2 separate regions of the Homo sapiens genome follow, and region 2 is linked to region 1. Evidence: fine-mapped expression QTL. A gene starts in region 1. The other region holds a variant in brackets. All regions are shown on one strand. Distances are from middle to middle.

The links.
Region 2: its variant is fine-mapped to the expression of ATP10A in esophagus mucosa (GTEx, PIP 0.96).

What each region holds. Positions count from the first base shown.
Region 1 is chr15:25,861,104-25,866,361 of GRCh38, forward strand. ATP10A (ATPase phospholipid transporting 10A (putative)) reads right to left here and starts at 2,224. Exons shown (of 21, transcript NM_024490.4): 1 at 1,545-2,224. The coding sequence starts at 1,993. ATP10A-DT (ATP10A divergent transcript) reads left to right here and starts at 4,167. Exons shown (of 2, transcript NR_183988.1): 1 at 4,167-4,805.
Region 2 is chr15:25,881,907-25,887,391 of GRCh38, forward strand. No RefSeq gene overlaps it. Among named protein-coding and RNA genes, the nearest start is that of LINC02346, 18 kb to the right of the region's middle. The variant C/T (reference allele first, on the strand shown) is at 2,214.

The DNA.
Region 1 (5,258 bases):
AGTCACTCTTGCTGACTGGCCAAAGAGCAAGGCTTGGGAGCAGGCAGAGTGGTGTTTCTGAAAGTGTGGGCCATCATATAAGAGTTACGTGCACGCTAATCTAATACATTCCTGGGCTCAATCCCAGGCCTGCTGAGTGAGACACTTTGGAAAACTGTAATTTTAACAAGCGCCTTCAGTGACTCTTACAAAAGTTTCAGAAGCACGAGCAAAGAAATATTCAAAAAGCTGTGCGGGCGGGAAGACCTGGGTCAAATCCCAGTACCACGACCTTGCTGCTGTGTGACACTGGGCAGGTTTACTTAACCTCTCTGAACCCGTTTACTCTGTTTACAAAAATATGGAGCATAACCACTGCAGTGTTGCTGGGAGGGTGAAAGGTACTCAACTACAGAGGCACGCATCCATGGCTTCATCCAAGCTATGAGTGCCTGTGTCTAAGGCATTCGTGAATGCCTACGTTTAAGAGGCAGGAGCCACTCTGACCCTCCTCTTTTAGGGGAACAATCTGCCACTAAGAGAGCATAGGGCTTCCTAGAGTCTCCCCATGCATAATGGAAGCCAGATACCGCTAATGTTCTATTCAGAAGCCCATCTCAGTCCCTGTTCCGGGGTCAAGCAAGGTGAGGCAGGAGGTAACGATGGGCTGAGCTTTGGAGGAAAGCTAAGACGACCCACCTTTCTCAGGGACAGGGCCTTGAGGTGGTCCAGGCTGCTGGACACAGCTCCAAGATGGATCTACCAAGGGGCTCTCCTGGGGTGGAGAGCATAAAGGATGAAAAGGCCGCAGGCCTCTGGACAGGTCCGCCGGAGACTCTAAAACTCAGGGAGGGAAAAAGAGCAGGAGTGGTCCATCGCAGGGTCACCCCTGGTACTGCCCGTGGCAGGGCTCACAAACACCCCACAGCCTCTTTCCCCCAGGAAGCAGGTTAAGATGAAGAAAATTAGGCAGGCAGCTACCGGGCGGTGCCTGGCTCGCGGCTCATGGCTCACAGTGGAGGATGGACACTGCTGTTATTTCCCCTGCCCTGGTACCTGGGCCGTGCCAGACATATCAGCACTTGGCGGCAGTTTCACTTTGCTGCTGTCCTGAGCCGAGCTGTTAGCAGACTGAGCTTTACTGTCCTGTGCCGGCTGTTCAGAGACCACTGTGCCTGGCCGAAGACTGAGGCAGGGACTTCAGGCCAGGGGGCCAGGCTGGCTTTTCCTGCCTTTCACTTCAGGTGGGAGCGGCTGTGGATGAGGATGTCCAGCGGCCGTCGGTTTCTAGCCTTGGGATCATTCTGGCCCCGACACGGAGTGACAGGGGATCCCCACGCGTCCCCGCATCCAGGGCGCCCCTTTAGCTGCGGCGGAGGCACAGAGAGGCCTTGGCGGCGCTGTGGCTTCGGTCGGCACCGGGTCCCGCGCAGCCGGGCCCTCCACCCTGAGTGGAGCTGCCTTCTAAGCACCCAGCCCCTGCCAATCACTGTGCCCAACACCAAGTTCCCGGGGCGCCCTGCCCTGCGCCACCGCGCGCTCGCTCGCCCGCCCGCCCAACTCACCTGCTGAAGACCAGGCAGCCCAGGTGGTTGATCTTGTGGTCGGAGCGGTGGCGGCTGTAGTCCTCCCACAGGTCCCTGAAGGCCGTGATGGCCAGGATGAAGAGCACCGGCGCCAGTGCCAGGCCGGGCTGGAAGGCGTTCACCGCCGGCACGAAGTTGAGCAGCGCGATGAAGACAAAGTACACGTTGGCCGGGCGGTGGAACTGCTCGAACAGGTTCTTGGGCAGGAAGGACAGCAGCGTGTACTTGGTAGTCTTGAGCCGGTTGTCGGCCAGGTGCTGGGCACACCCGCGCCGCCGTCGCCGCTCGCCCTTGGCCGCGCCAGCCGCAGGGTCCTCGGCGCCCGGGGGCGGCAGCAGGTTGGAGCGCACCGTGCGCGTCCTGCCCTCTCGGCGCCTCCGCCGTCCCGGAGGCCCGGGCTCCTCGGTCCCCGCCGGCTCCCGCTCCATGGCCGCGTGTCGCCGCGCCCGGCTCCTCCGCCGCTCACGCCCGCCCGCGCCGGCCTCTTAGGTTATCATCACTCGCGGCCCGGGCGCGGCGGTGCGAGCTCCCCGCCTGCGGGACGCACGGAGACCGCGGTCAGCGCGCCGCCTGGCCGGCCCAGCGCGCCCAGCCCGCGCCCAGCCCCGTCCACTCCCGTCCAGCCCCGCCGCCCGGCCGCAGTCCCCAGGGCGCAAGCTGGGCGGGTGCCGCACAGAGCCCCCTTGTCCTCGCCGCCCGCCCCCGGCCCGGGTCGTTTCCGCCGCGGTGGCCACGGCCCCGCCCTCGTTCCGCGCCCGGACTGGGCCACGCCGGATAGCGGGAAACAAAAAAAGCCCGAGCTGGAAACTTCAGAGAGGTTTAGTTTCGTTTCCCAGAAGCATCAGTTCGGTCCCAAAACGCTGCAAACGCGCGCTGCCTGCAGTAGGAGAGAGGAAACCGCGAAGCGCGAGAAAAGGCGCCCCCGTCCCCAAGCAGCCCGCGCGCCCTTCCAGGGGCCAGACCTGCTCCATCCTGGACGGCGAAACGACCTCGGGAGACCCCGGTTAGGACCTTACTCCAGGGATCAACTGGAATCAAAATCCAAAGGATCCATGGCATCCAGTGCTCCAATTTTTAAGTCTTTTTTACGCAGGACCTCTGCTCCTGGGGAGCCCTGGGAAGGGCGATTCCGCGTTGCCTCTAAGAACTTCTTTCCTACCCCACTTCCCAGCCCCCACCACTTTCAGATTCCGTTGTTGGGCGAACTAGACCGTTTCCTTTCCACCATCATCATTACTGCCTTTCCTTCCTCTCCTAAATAAATTCTTTTTCTTTTTTCTGTTCTTTCTTCATGGAAAGGAGAAATATATCGCTATAGCAAAGACAGAATTTGGTTTGCAGGTATTTGAGTGTCTGTTTCCCTCCCTGGGAAATCATGAGGACCGAAACGCTCCTTGTGCGCTGTAGCTCTGAGGTGGCTGTCATGGCCCGGACGGCGGGGGAGGCGAGGATGGTTGTGGGGAGGCGAGGATGGTTGTGGGGAGGAGAGGGGAGCGTCAGGAGGGTGTCCCAGAAGTGTGGGGCGAAGGGCTCCCCTCCACATCATGGGGCATCCGAGAAGGGGTGGGAGAATAAGCACGGCATGGAAAAAGGAGCTGGGAGTCCCCCACGTCCGCAGTGAGACCCCACAGATGTTTCATGGCTGTGACTGTTTGCCTCCCACTCAAGAAGTACAGAGATGAGAAGCAGTTATTTCTTGCCCAGGAGGCCGTGGCTGGGCGGTTGGCCGTGGCCCCAGGCTCTTCCTGGGGGTGCCTGCTAACAAGGCACTGCCCTGGATGGACTCAAATCACGTCTTCGCCAGGACCCTGGCTTGGGGAGGCCCTCCCCTCCAGCACCCTGGCTTACCCGGCTCCAGTTATGACATTCTTACATCTCTGCCCAGTTTTGCCACCATCCACAATGTTGCCCAGAACCCAGTGTTAGAAGGTAGAGTGGTGACAGGTGTGAAGAAAATAATCCCATCCCCCAGTCACAGGGGTGGGCTTTTGACATGTAGAGGCCCAGATCAGGGAAAGGTTTGGCTGAAGTCTGCATTGTTGGGGAAAGGAGTCAGGTCTCACAGTCAACCAGCAGAAACCCAAACGGAGCATCAACTGCAAATGAAGGCCCACAGCGCCTGCAGTCTTGAGGCCTCACATCCCATGGCTCCGTGTTTTCCTCTACCAGCCCACCTGGTGACCCCCGAGGCCTTCGGCCTCCCTACACTTCGGCCTCCTGTCTTCACAGGCATCCCCGTGGACCCTTCGCCCAAAGTCTCCAGGGGTGTCCGCGCCTACCAGACTCCCAGCTTCAGCCAGTCCACACTGTTGCCAAAGTAATTACCGCCTCATTCCATTTGCTTACCCTGGAGCTTCCAGGAGTACTCCTGGTGCTTACAAAGCCAAATGCTGATTCCTCAGGCAGAGGTCCCTTGAGGCCCTGAGGGGAACCAGCTTGCTGATTTTCTTCAGCCCCTCCCTGGTTCAGGCCCAGCCCCAAGGTGAGAGGTCTCCTTATCCTTCTCAGAACAGTCCTTACTCATCCCATCCACATTCCGCTCTAAGGTTCCAAGATTCTGTGAGTCACAATGCTCCTCAAGTCTGGAATCTTTTTCCACCTGCTCTTCCCCAGTGCAAAGTCAGGATTTCCAGGAAGGCCTAGCTCAGCTCACCTCTGGAAAGGTCTCCAAGCTGTGTGATCTGGGGAATCGTGGAGGGGTTTTGAGCTCAGGTGTCTTCTGCCAGCTGGACTCTGAGACCCTGGCCTGCTGGGGCGAGGATGAGGCTCTGATGTGGTCTGGTCAACTCTGGGTTGGCCATCTGCACCACAGGGCTCTAACAAGGGCCTGCTATAGGCCATGAGAACCACTGTAAGTGTCCTTGTTCGGCAAATACTTACTCATCCCCTGCTGTATGCCCGGCAATGTTCCAGGCACAGGAATTCATCGGAGAGCTAGAGAGGACAAGATGTTGTCATGGAGCTGCAGCAACTGAACGAAAAACCATGAGAGCCCACGGAGGGCTTTGGAAGGGATGAGGGATGGCCTTTTCGAAGAGAGGCACTGGAGTTGAAACCTGAATGGGACAAGATCAGGTGGAAGAGGCTTCCAGACAGAGGGGGCAGCTCTGTCAAAAGGTCCCAAAGAAGGAGAAATCTCAATGTGTTTAAGAAACAGGTGGGGCTTCTGCCTCACACTCATTCTAAAACCTTCAACCCCACAGCTTCTGCTTTAGGCAATGGGGACACCTGGGAAACACAGTAAGTTTCTGCTCCCCGGAACACTAAGTCCTCACGTGGGAATCCCAACAAAGATGGCTCAGAAAATGAAGGGACACCTGAAACCAGGGCTGGGAGGGGTGGGATCCTGCTCTTGCTCCTGTCAATTGGGCGGTCCAAGGAGGCTTCTCAAGCAACACTGAGCGGAGGCCTAGGGACACAAGCTGTGCAGGCACCTAGGGAAGAAATGGTAAGCACGGGGCGGGATAGGGAGCGTTCAGGGATTTCAGGCCCAGCAAGGAAGCCGGGGTAGCTGGAGCTGAGTGGGAGATTGGAGACGTGGCCGAGAGTGAGGTCATGTGGGGCCTTGTGGATCCCGGTGAGGATTTTGGCTTTTGAGCGAGAGGGAAAGCTTGGGAGGATTTTGAGAAGTGGCATCAAGTGGCTTTACCGAGGTTTCCAGAGATCACTCCTGCTGCAATGTAAATAGAATGT
Region 2 (5,485 bases), 21 kb after region 1:
ACAAAAGCTGAGAGAATTCACTACCAGCTGACCTGAGTTAGAGGAGAAGCTAAAAGTTCTTCAGGTGAAAAGAAGTGGAGAAGACTGGATATTGTAAATATAAACCAAAAAAGATACTGTATTATATTTAATTTCTGAATGTCTTTGAAAAGCAAGCAATTGTTTAAACAAAAAATTATACCAATCTATTGTGAGGTTTCTAACTTATGCAAATTTAAAATATATGACACTGATAGCAAAAAAGTGGAGGTTAAATGAAATCGCACTCTCACTGCAACACTACAACATATAGTTATTAAAACAACAACAAGTCAACATAGTGGACTTCTAATACATTCAACAAATTAGATGTTATAGGATATTTCTTTGAAAAACAGTTTACCAAAACCAGTGCAAGATGAAGGTAAAATTTGAATAGCTCTATATCAGTTAAAGATATTAAATTCAAAATCTAAGTCCTAGGCCAGGTGCAGTAAGTAGCTCATGCCTGTAATCCCAGCACTCTGGGAGGCCTAGGCTGGAGGATCACTTGAGCCCAGGATTTCAAGATTAGCCTGGGAAACATAGTGAGATCTCATCTCTCTTAAAAATAAATTTAAAAAATTAGCCAGGCATGGTGGTGAACACTTTTAGTCCCAGCTTCCTGGGAGACTGAGGCAGGAGGACTGCTTGAGCCTGGGAGGTCGAGGTTGCAGTGAATCATGATTGTGTCACTGCACTCCAGCCTGGGCAACAGACCAAATGTCCATCTCAAATTTAAAATGAATAAAAATAGAAATAAAAACAAAATCAAAGTCCTTCCCATAAAGGAAACTCCAGGCCCAGGTGGTACAATTACACACAGATTAGAATGGCTCAAGTGAAAAGGAATAATACCACCAAATATTGGCAAAGAATGTGAAGCAGCTGGAACTCTCAGGCATTGCAGGTGGAAGTGTAAAGCAGGTACTGAGGCGGGAGGTGGGACTTGACTCCAGAGGTGGGGCTCAGACTCCAGACCAGATTGAAGACTAGCTGAAACAGGGAAGAGGCAAAAGCACCTCTCCATAAGACATGCCCACCAGTGCCATGTCAGTTTACCATTGCCATGGCAACACCAGAAGTTACCACCCCTTTCCATGACAATGACCTGACAACCCAGAAGTTACCATCTTTTTTCTAGAAATTTCTGTATAATCCACCCCTTGATTTGCCTGTGATTAAAAGTGGGTATGAAATGACTGCGGAACCCCCCTGAGCTGCTACTCTGGGCACACTGCCTGTGGTTAGCCCCGCTTCACAAGGAGCAGTACCCCCTGCTACTGCTGTGCACTGTGCTGCCATCAAAGTTGCTGTTTAACACCACCGGTTCACCCTTGAATTCTTTCCTGGGTGAAGCCAAGAGCCCTCCCAGGCTAAGCCCCAATTTGGGGGCTCGCCTGTCCAGCATCAGCACAACCACTATGGAACTATGTGTGGTAGTTTCTGTTTTAATGAAATATGTTTATCTGTGATCAGCAATTCTAGTCCTAGTCATGTACTCTAGATAAATGAAAATATATGTACATAAAATGGTTGTTCATTGCAGCTTTATTCAAAATAGCCAAAAACTAGAAACCACTGCAATGTCTATCGACAAGTGAATGGATAAACAAAATGTGTTATTTCCATATGATGGACTGTTATTCAATAATATCAAGGATACATTCAAGAACATAGATGAATCACAGTACATTATGCTGAGTGAAAGAAGCCAGAGATGAAAGACTCCCTAATGTTTGATTCTATGTAGATGAAGTCCATGGATAGGCAAAACTAATGTAGCTTGGAAAACAGTCTAAACAATGGTTGCCTCTGGCATTGAGGGGTGGAAAATGATTGGAAAGGGTCTTAAGGGAACTTTGTGAGGTTTTGTAATATTCTATTAACTGAACAGAATGCCAGTTGCCTGGGTTTTTGCATTTCTTTTTACTTTTGTTGTTACCTTTAAGAAGGAAAGGTGTCAGTGGCTGGGGAAAGCATAAGGGATCTTCTGGAGTGTTGGCAATGCTCTACTTCTTGGCATGACTGTATTTACTTTGTGGTAATCCTTTAACTGTACATTATGATGTGTGCACTTCCCGGAATGTGCAGTATGCTTTTATAATAAGTCAAAAATTAGAAGCCCTTTGGATGACTTACTGTCGATATATGCTATCCTCCCACAGTCTAGTTACGCGTGGCATCTGCATAGT[C/T]AGGCTCAGACATTCTTTAGCCACCCCTGAAGCTTGACTTCCATGCTTGAGCAAATACTTCCTAATCCTGAGAGCTGTCAGGGTTCACTTGAATTCTCTGGTGCGGTAGGAATCATTGTGCCTTTCCCAGAAGGAAACTGATCTAATTGGCTTAATGAAGCCAAGAACCTCTTATTCAACTCTCTTTTCCTTATAACAACATGGTATTATTTCTTTTAATTATGGACTATCACATGGAAATTGCTGACTTATTCTAGCTCCATTAAGTGGACACACTAAGATGAACCAAAATACTTACAAAAAGCACGCAAACACCCGCTGCCTGCCTCTGCTCCCTGCACTCAGTCTCTGTGGTCCCTTGCACCTCACCTTCCCAGTTTGGCTCTGCTTCTTGGTTCAGCTTTAACAGCCTGCTTAGTGCATGCCTCTGTAGCTCCTAGGTCCTGATCTGAGAGAGGGTGCATCTGGCCAAGTGCTTTCAGAGGGAGCATGAGGAGCCTGCCCTGACCTCTCTTGGCCCCTTATTGGGAGACGCCCTTTGGCTGTGATGCATAACCTTACTTTAATGTGGTTGCTGTACACAGCATATTGGATTCCGCCTCATAATAATCTGCAGATCTGTGAGTCTGAGCAATCGATGCCTGTCTAACTGCCACTGTCACTGCATTAGGCTGTCAACTTTCTCAAAGACCTTTCCTAATGCACTGACATCCAAGTCAGTCCCTTTTTATTTCATTTTGTTATTATTTTTTAGAGACAGGGTCTCTCTCTCACCCCAGCTGGAGTGCAGTGGCATGACCATAGCTCACTGAAGCCTCAAACTCCTGGGCTCAAGCAATACTTCTGCCTCGCCTCCTGAGTAGCTGGGACTACAAGCACATACCGCCATGCTGAACTAATTTTTAAGTTTTTTTTTTTTTGTAGAGACAGGGTCTTATTATGTTGTCCAGGCTGGTCTCAAACTCCTGGTCTCAAGCAATTCTCCTGTCTCAGCCTCCCAAAGCGCTGAGATTAGTGGTATGTACCTTTTTGACACTACTCCAGTTGTGTTTGGCAGCTTCCTTCTTCCTGACTTACTTATCTTCAGAGCCCTCATCACCACCTGGTGTTACAGTCTATGTGTTGATATCATTTTCTACATCGCCCCCAGCCTATTTGAATATAAAGTCCATGAGAGGGAAAGGATAGAAATTGTGTTTACTTTGTCCTCTCCTGTAGCTCCAGTACCTGCAACAATGACTGGCGCATAGTAGATTGTCCATAAATATTTGAAAAATGAAAAAATGAGACAATTGGGAAAAGAGAATGAGAAGCTGATAAACATTTGTTGTGCACACACCATAATAATAATAACAATAATAATAATAGTAATAATACAGATGCTCCTCGGCTTATGACGGGATTACGTCACAATGAACCAGTGGTCAATGGAAAATATCTTAAGTAGAAAGTGCATGTGATATACCTGACTTGCTGAATATCCTAGCTCAGCCTAACCCACCTCACCCATGCTCAGAGTGCCTGCAGTTGCCTGCAGTTGGGCAAAGTCATCTCACACAAAGCTTATTTTATAATAAAGTGTTGAATATCTCAGATAGTTTATTGAATACGGTTGAAAGTGAAAAACAGAACAGTTGTGTGGGTTCTCCAGCTACTATTTCTTTTCTTTTTTTTTCTTTTCTTTCTTTCTTTCTTTTTTTTTTTTTTGAGAAAGGTTCTTGCTCTGTGGCAGCCTTGACCTCCCAGACTCAAGCCGTCTTCCTACCTCAGCCTCCCCAGCAGCTGAGACCACAGGTGCCCGCCGCCACCATGCTTGGCTAATTTTTGTATTTTTGGTAGAAACGAGGTTTAACCACGTTGCCCAGGCTGGTCTCGAGCTCCTGGCCTGAAGGGATCCATCCATCTCAGCCTCCCAAACTTGTGGGATTACAGATGTGAGCCACTATGCCTGGCCTCAAAGTACTGTTTCTATTGAGTGTGTATTGCTTTCACACCACAGTAAGTTTGAAAAGTCTAAGTCAAACCGTCGTAAGGCAGGAACCGTCAGTCTAAAAAAGGCATAGATTTTGAGAAAAAGGGAGGCAGAGGAGTTGGGAAGAGAGGTTATAGGACTGATGAAAGATAGTGAAACCAATGCGGATGTAACAAAACACTGAATCAAAGGCAACAAAGACAGGGGTAGGCAGAAGCCAGGAAGGGACTGGGCCAAGTAAGAGGGAAAGGAAAAGGGGGTTCCCTCTGTCCCTTCTCCCTCAATCAGGCTTGTGGGTGCAGGACAGGACGCTAGGCCGCCTGCCATATAGAATTATCTGTGTTGGTCTTCTCCTTTCCTCCTTCCCTGGACTCTGACGTCTTTGTCAAGTCTGGGATGAAGTGGGTGAGAGAAATGCCTTTTCATCATGAGCTTCCCTGAGGTCTCTCTTTCTCCACATGAAGTTTCAAAAGTCTATTTTGGGATGCAAAGGCTGAGAGCTCCAACACTGGGTCTCCTCTCCTCTCCCGGCCAACATTCGAGAGCTGGTAAGACAAGACCTCAAGTTGCTGCCAAAATGGAAGGAGGCCATGGGGAAAGACGGAATGATAAGCATGTCGGTTCAGATCAACATGTTATCTCACCACATGGGTGTTTGTTAGGAAATGAATGTGTTTGTTCTTTTGCATCAATCAGGAGCAGCAGGGAACATGGAGGGGTGGAGGGATGGTGAATGGGTTTGTTTTAAAGAAAAAGACCAGTGAGAGGGGAAGTTCAAGGCCTCTAGTCAAGTCACCCGTGCTTTCTCCCAGGCCCTCATCTCTGTTCCCTTCCCACGCAGACTTGCCCAACCTCCCCATTCTGTGCCAGCAGATCTGGGTGCTTACGCCTGGCTTGGGGAAGTGTGTGTCTTGGAGGGGAAAGGGTGTGGGGACTTCACTTGTATGCACAGTGCACCAGATTCCACAGAGCCTCTGGAGCCCAGGGTTTTTATCATTATGTTTGTTGACTTATTATGTAAAAATTGTACTTTGTTGCTTTTTTATTTGCTTGTTTTAATTGTTACTTGCAGCCATTTTTCCAAACGGCTGTTGTTCTTGAATGTTAGCTGTGCTCACACTTTCCTCATTATTGGTTCCTTAGTGAGCTTTCCTTTCCTTTATTCCTTCCTTCCTTCCCTCCCTCCCCTCCCCTCCCCTCCCTTGCCTTCCCTTCCTTCCTTCCTTCCATCCCTCCTTTTTCAGACAAGGTCTTTCTCTGTTGCCCAGGCTGGAGTGCAGTAAGTCGTGTGATCTTGGCT